2 linked regions of the Homo sapiens genome follow. The protein of the gene in region 2 interacts with the protein of the main gene of each other region in a biochemical or structural test. Each region holds a gene or a part of one and is shown on either strand. Other genes may lie near its edges.

Evidence for each region. The genes of interacting proteins can lie anywhere in the genome.
Region 1: the proteins of ANXA6 (region 2) and RASA1 form a complex in vitro, tested with the Homo sapiens proteins (one study listed by BioGRID).

The regions. Positions count from the first base shown.
Region 1 is NC_000005.10:87,368,772-87,372,641, forward strand, and holds part of RASA1 (ras GTPase-activating protein 1), read left to right. Parts: intron 1-1,041; coding exon 1,042-1,129; intron 1,130-3,346; coding exon 3,347-3,424; intron 3,425-3,870. UniProt on the Homo sapiens protein: Inhibitory regulator of the Ras-cyclic AMP pathway. Stimulates the GTPase of normal but not oncogenic Ras p21; this stimulation may be further increased in the presence of NCK1.
Region 2 is NC_000005.10:151,147,766-151,151,635, forward strand, and holds part of ANXA6 (annexin A6), read right to left. Parts: intron 162-3,870; 5' UTR 137-161; coding exon 119-136; intron 1-118. UniProt on the Homo sapiens protein: May associate with CD21. May regulate the release of Ca(2+) from intracellular stores.

The sequences.
Region 1 (3,870 bases), about 64 Mb from region 2:
TGGCAACTGCCTTGAACGGAAAAGATGTGGAGAATGTCGGGTTAATTATAGTATGATCTTGGCTCCTCAAATCTTAGCTGCTTTGGTTGTTCTCCAGTGCTTTCAAACAGTTGTTTTTCTGTTTTGTATTACTATTTTAAGTTTTATCCAACTAGGGTGGTTAGTCTGATACAGGCAACATTTAGGATTAGAAGTTTCCAATTCCTATTTTCCATGATTACTTTTAAGACATTCTCAAAGCATGAAAATATAGTCTTTATCTTTAATAAGTGTTAAGCTTGTCCTCTGTGTATTTTTGCTATGGCCTCCTAACATTAGCATGATATAAAATCTTTAAAGCAGGAAACAGAAGTAACATTTATTGAGTTCCAAAAACATGCAGGCCCTTAATAAAGATTTTACCAATATTTTCAAGTCTAGTTGGAAAGATAGCACATTTCCAAAATGATATAAATTATTACCTAATATTGTACTTACATATCAAATGATTTGAAATAATACTAAAGGAAGACAAGAACATTTGTTGTACACAACTGTTCACTTAAACTCTAGAACAAGCATATGTATGAAGAGATGATGTTTCCATTTTAACAGGTGAAGAAAAATGATCAGTTTAGAAAAATTTGAAAATACAGAATCACCTACAATCTCCTTAGAGATAATTACTTAGAACATTTTTGGTCTAAGAACATTTCTAGTCTTTTTCCAGTGCATATAAAGCTTTTCAAATTAGCTGTGTGCAGTTCTAGCAGTTCAGCTTCAATCTGTTTGTAACTTTATTTCTAATGTATTTTACAATTAATTGAAATTTCTTTAGTTTACACTTTGAAATACTGATAACATTTTAATAGTGCTGACATAAAGTTTTCTAAAATATATATAGCTGACTTTTTTTTAGTAATGATCTGGTACAATGGAGTATTATTTCTTTAAGAATTATAATTTTATGTTAATTATTTATTGTGAGTGTTTTGGAAGCTGGTATAAATATTTTGCTACTTTTTATTAAGCTTCCTAATAATTTTTGTTTTTATTTTAAAGGCCAAACTGTTTTCAGATAGTAGTTCAGCACTTTAGTGAAGAACATTACATCTTTTACTTTGCAGGAGAAACTCCAGAACAAGCAGAGGTAAGATTACTGTTTCTCAAACTACAGTATACTTTTATGTTAGCCCATGTTTTCTTATTAACTGGAATAGAAAATGATCGCATTCAAGATAAAGTGACAGAACGCCTGAAATCTAATCATCTCTTATTTTAAGGAATGAGATTTCATATGTAAAAAGTTTTCTGAAAGAAATGCAAAAACAAACACAGTGAAGGGTTATTAGGAATGAAAACTCCATTTTAAATTGACCTTTAAATACTCTATGATGTTGAGGCCAACTGAGAATGCTCATTTAAAATCCTCTCTGCATAAAGGTTATAGGTCATCTCAGTATAATCCAAAGGTAAGCCAGTTAACCAGTTAGTTTTGCTAACAAGCATTATTCTTCACTGGTTGAACTCCATGTCTGAAAATAAAAGTCAGTCAACACAAGGAAAGATATTTTAGGAATCTATTCTCTAAGCCAAGTCGAGATATAATGTCTACTTTAGATTAGCTATTAATCCATGTGCAGTGTCCTTCTTATAGCGTCTATTAAGTAATTGTGTGAAGAAATAATATTTTTTAAAAAACACTCTTTAAAAAATATTTTGCAACAAAGGGAGAACCCACCTCTATAACAAAAGTAAAAAATTAGCTAGGTGTTCTGGCTTATGCCTGTAGTCCCAGCCACTGGGTAGAATGAGGCAGGAAGATTGCATTAGCACAGGAGTTTGAGTTACAGTGAGTAAGATCGAGACACTGTAAGCCAGCCTAGGCAACAAACTGAGACACTGTCTCTTAAAAAATTTTTTTGCTTTCTTTGAACCCTAATATTTCTGGAGTATATGGTTGTATTTTATACAAATACAGCTAAATTTCTGCTTATATTCTAACGAAGGAACTTAAAGGTGGTTAAGAAGTGAAAGTGGCTTTGTTGGAAATATAATTTGCCAACCCTAGATATGAGGAAGATGCTCTTAAAACTAGATCCTAGCGTGAGACTCACAGAATAAACCTGAATGAGCTTACAACTGAACGTCATATTTCACATCTTTATCAAATATCTCATTTAATGCTCATTTCACATGTAATGCACATAAAATTTTACGGCTATGTATCCCTAATTTTTAGATGAGAAAGGTAGTGCTCAAAACATTTTGGTAACTTACATGATTTTTTTAAATGTTAGAAATTGAGTTAGAAATTTAAACTTCAGTATCCTATTTTCTAAGTATTTTACCATGGTCCCTCTTTCTGAATAAAATGTCACATACCATAATGACATTTCAGCATGTTTTGCAAGCCTAACATAGAACATTTTTTAATGTATTTATACATAATATTTCTGTATTTCCATAAATGGTATTTCCAGTTTTTGTTGATTTATTGGGCTGTGGGGGTCTCTGGTTATTCTCTTCTATTTCAAAAAGCTATGGTAACTGATTTGGTTTTAATTTGCTGTAATATAAAGACAGTCTCTAGATATTAATAAAGTTCAGCTTCATTGAAATAGCCAACAAACTAAAGACATAATTGAATAAAGCAATAGTACACAGCTTTCCAGAAATATGTAAAAACCAAAGTGAATATTTAGATTTGTTTTTAATAAACCTTAGTTCTCTCCTTTTCCCCAAAGCACTAGATAAACATTTTAAAAATATGGCTGCAATTTGATTTGAATATTAGGCTAAAATGATTTTTAAAATCTAATGTTATATTTGAGAAGCTTAAAAATAACCCAAATCCCCTTATACATTTCTACCTGTATCATGGTCTAAAGTATAGATTAATATGCTTGTCATGGGATCGGTCATCACATTATCAGTTGGTTTTACAATCAGCACTCTCCCCCTCTCACAAAGTGTATCAAGTTAAATTCCACCTAAGCTTGCCTCAAGTATAACAGCTTAATTATACAGTTAATTTCCCCAAGGTAGTATCTGTTTGGGAGAAATAGTTTCTTTAATGTAAATTTGATTTTTTGGCTAATTAATGGCCACTCGATGTGTTTCATACATAAATTCAAACAAAGATTTATACAGAATTACAATTGTTTTGGTTGTTTTATTATTGTTATTGTTATGTTATTGTTATTTTATTATTGGTTATTGTTATGAAGTACAGTATAGTCTGAGAATAGAAATGGCAGTCTAGAGAAGGAAAAAATTGTTGAATTTGAAAAAAAAAACCTAACTGATGATTTGGAAGCCAAATAAACTAGTGTATATTTCTTTGAAGTGCTGTTTTTCTTTGCAGGATTGGATGAAAGGTCTGCAGGCATTTTGCAATTTACGGAAAAGTAGTCCAGGGACATCCAATAAACGCCTTCGTCAGGTGAAGCTTAATTTTCTTGGATTTTTAATTGTCACATTTTGCTCTAACACTTTGCTCTTTTTATTTTATTTTTATCTGAACTGTTTTGGACATCATATGGGGTTAAGCCATGCTGCCACTTGCTTCAGTAGCAGGAAAACGTTACTTCTTTATGAAAGAGAATGTTCTTTCTTAGTCCATGCCAACTGTTAAAAACATAAGAAAGATTATTCTTCCACTTTAAATAACAACACTAAACCAACACAGCAGAAACGGTTCTGTTGGGCACTTAATTTTCCTTCAAAAACTTATTTTGGCCTCTTTCAAAAAAGTAGAACATTGAAAAGATCATCAGATTTATAGCACTAATCCCAATAAACTTTTTTGGGATTTTCATTTTGAAGAACAGCTTTTAAAACCTACTGCTTAACTCTTAGGAAATATTTAATCTTATTTGAAACTGTAAC
Region 2 (3,870 bases):
TTCCTCCTTTTTTCAAGCTGAAGGTACCAGGGGTCTCTGTAGCAGGCCTAGTGGCTCCAGGAGGATCCCAGGCCCAGAGAAGGCTGAGTACCACCTTCAGGAAAGAGAGGCCCCTTACCTGTGCTGGTTTGGCCATGGTCTCCGGTTCGCAGCAGAATCCACTGTAGAGAAGAAAGACAGCATGTGAGATTCCCCCCAACTCTAACCATCCCCTTTCTTTCCCTTACATTTCCTCCCTCTGCTGTTTTCCAGCTGCCCCCAGCCCTTCAGGTTAAATCAGACCCAATGACCCAGCTCAAGGCCAATCACATTTTTTTCAGAAGACAATGGACAGACTAGATGGTGTCCAGACATTCACAGCAGTATGGGAAAGGGACGCGGATCCCCAAGGGAGGGCGGGCATGGCACTGACCCACCACTGACCCCTTGACTCCTCCACACTAGGCAGGGTACCTGTCTCAGCACCGTCTCAGTTACTACTCTCAGAAATCCTTCCACACATCAGATTCTCCTTTTTTATAGAGAGGAAACTGAGGCTGGAGCATCGCAATAAATGAGCCAAGATCACACAGCTTAGAACTGAATTCAACAATTTCTAGATCCCAGAGTCTATACTATCTGCACCATGCATGCCCCCTTTTCAAGTCAACAAGGATGGCTTCAGAACCCAGAGCTTGACCGCCTGCAGATAGGACTCAAAGTGCTTCCAACCACCTGCTGCAATATCTGAAGGACTGTCATTCCTGAACAAGTGAGTATGCACTCATTTAGCGCCTATCCTAGTCAGGCATTGCTCTGGGCACTGTGCATGCAGAAATATGAGCAATTTTTTAAATTCTGTTTCTCTAGAGCTTATGCTGTAATGGGAATGAATAACAAATGCACTCATCAGGCTGAGATAAGAACTACAGAGAAAAGACAAGGCTTGGTCAGGAAAGTGACAAGGGGTGTAGTCCCAGGTGGAGGGGTCAGAGGATCTCACGAGTGTGACTGGGGCACACCGCGGGGTGGTGCAAGTGAGGAACCACCACGAGCTCAGTGTGGCTGGTGTGGTAGCAGGGAGTGGTGTGGTAGGATGTAGGATCTGAGACCGGTGCCTGAGGCCACTGTAAAGACTGGATTTTTCAGGCTGGTCGTGGTAGCTCATGCCTATAATTCTGGCACTTTGGGAAGCTGAGGTGGGAGGATAATTTGAGCCCAGGAGTTCGAGACCAGCCTAGGTAACATAGTGAGACCCGATCTCTATTAAAAAAAAATAAAAAAAAAATAGCTGGACATGGTGGCACATGCCTATAGTCCCAGCTACTTGGGAGGCTGAGGCGAGAGGATTGCTTGAACTCAGGAGGTGGAGGCTGCAGTGAGCCAAGGTTGCACCACTGCACTCCAGCCTGGGTGACAGGGCAAGCCCTGTCTCAAAAAAAAAAAAAAAAAAAAAAAGACAGGAACACACAGGAAAACAGGACACATATCTCATTGAAAATGGATAAGGAATGCGGGTGGAGGATATCAGGAGACAGGGTCTACAGTGAAGGAACAAAGATATGATACGTAAAAATAAATGCAAAAAGAGATGTAACTGATTTGGGAAGTATAAGAGAAGCAGGTAGGGAGCTGGCTAATGAGCACTCAGGAGGGCAACAGATGAAAGTTTAACAATCTTCTTAAGAGAAGGAGAAGAGAAACAAAGGACCACTACTTTCCACTTTAAGCAGGTCTGGGCAATTTGATCTCTTTTTTTTGAGATGGAGTCTCGCTCTGTTACCCAGGCTGGAGTGCAGTGGCGCAATCTCAGCTCCCTGCAACCTCCACCTCCCGGGTTCAAGCGATTCTCCTGCCTCAGCCTCCTGAGTAGCTGGGATTACAGGTGCACGGCACCACACCTGGCTAATTTTCGTATTTTTAGTAGAGATGGGTTTCACCATGTTGGCCAGGCTGGTCTCGAACTCCTGCCCTTGTGATCTGCCCTCCTCAGTCTCTCAAAGTGCTGGGATTATAGGCGTGAGCCACCAAGCCTGGCCTGATCTCTTTTAACAATGTCTATGTATTGCTTTTTAAAAGTGAACATAACAGAGGCCAGGAGCAGTGGCTCATGCCTGTAATCCCAGCACTTTGGGAGGCCAAGCGGCAAGGACCACCTGGGGCCAGAAGTTTGAGACCAGCCTGGCCAACATGCGAAACCCCGTCTCTACGAAAAAATACAAAAATTAGCCAGGTGTGATGGTGTGTGCCTGTAGTCCCAGCTAGTCAGGAGGCCGAGGCAGGTGAATCGCTTGAGCTGGGAGGCAGAGGTTGCAGTGAGCAGAGATGGCACCACTGCACTCCAGGCTAGGCAACAGAGTGAGACTCTGACTCAAAAAAAAAAAAAAAAGTAAACATAACAAAGTCAATCAGATTTACCCAGTAAGACCTAAAAGGAACAGAACTAGGAGAGTAGAAATCATGGAGACATTTCAGCTCAATGCCTTCCAGTTCTCCACATATTCCCTGTTCCCCCAAGACTTAGGGAAAATCTTAGCCATGTGACCGTGGGCTTATTGCTCATTTTTGAGTTCAAGGTGATCTCAAGCACAAAACTGAAGCTTTCCCTTTTCTGCTTTGTAGGGTTGTTGGAGGATAAGACCTAAGTTATGTCAAAGGCAGCACATAAGAGGCCAGGCACAAGACCTGTTCTTAGTAAATGGTGATATTTACTGTGCTGGTGGGAAGTTGAGGACAGGGCCTCTGTCGTGTTTGCCTCTGTGTCTTCACTGGCTGATTATGAGTTCCCCAAGCTGCAGTCAGCTGAGGACAGTCATCATATGGGGTTGGGAGTGGAAGGCAGAGGACGGATCTGCCTGCAAATGCAGCTCAGCTCAGCTCAGCTTCAGGAAACCTTGCTGTTTCCCTGGCAACCAGGGGCCCCTTGGTACAACTGTGCAGCTCTCACCAGGAAATGGAAACTGTACCCCCTTTCCAGTGTGTGGTGGGGGGAGGAGGGGGCCCACATCTACCCCGGGATGAGGCTGGAGGCCAGCTCTCGGTTTCCTCTGACCTGGGGGATAGTAGGGGGAGACAGTGAAGGAAGCCCAAGGCTAGCAGAGAACCAGGGACTGAATGAGACCCAGGAAGTTAGTTGACACAGACAGAGGGAGGGCTGAGGCCTGTCACCTGCATCTCCAGCCTTGAAGCACTTTCCTCTGGGCTTGTTGCTGGCAATTTCAGCTGCTGGCTGCAGCCCAGGCCCATCTGGAGGAGCTCCCCTTTCCAAGGAGAGATGGCTTCAAGGAGGGGCCTCTTACTGTTTGGGAAAATATTCTCAGCTCTGAGAGCAGTTTCTGTGTGCCTTGTGTGAGTGCACAGTTCATATGTAAAAAGCAAGCTCCTTCCAGAACTAGATGTTCAGACTGCAGTTCTGAGGGCCAGTCCCCCTGCTGATTCCACAGCCCCGCCTCTGAGGGTTCTGGGAAGCTCCTGAGCTAATCATAAACACACCATTTACCCTGGCTTTAAGATGGCTTCTGATCCCTCCCAGAGCAACCTAGACCATACTGCTCAAATTGGCTGAATATTTTACATCTAGTGTTTCTGAATCCCACAAGGGCCCTTAATAATCCATGACTCCAAGTCCCTCATTTTCTAGACGGGGTAAAGGCATCTCAGAAAGAGAAAGTGACTTGCCAGGGCCCAGGAAGCAGCCAACATCTCTGCCTAGCAGCCCTCGATCATAACAAGTCCCCACACAACTGTGGGTCTTGGCTGCAATGGGACACCAGGAAGAGTCCAAAGAATAAGACCCTGGTTCTGGTTCCCAGTCTGCCCCCATGTAACCTCAGGCAAGCCAGATCCCTCTCTCAGCCTTAGTTTCTTCATCTCTAAAGTGGGACAATACAT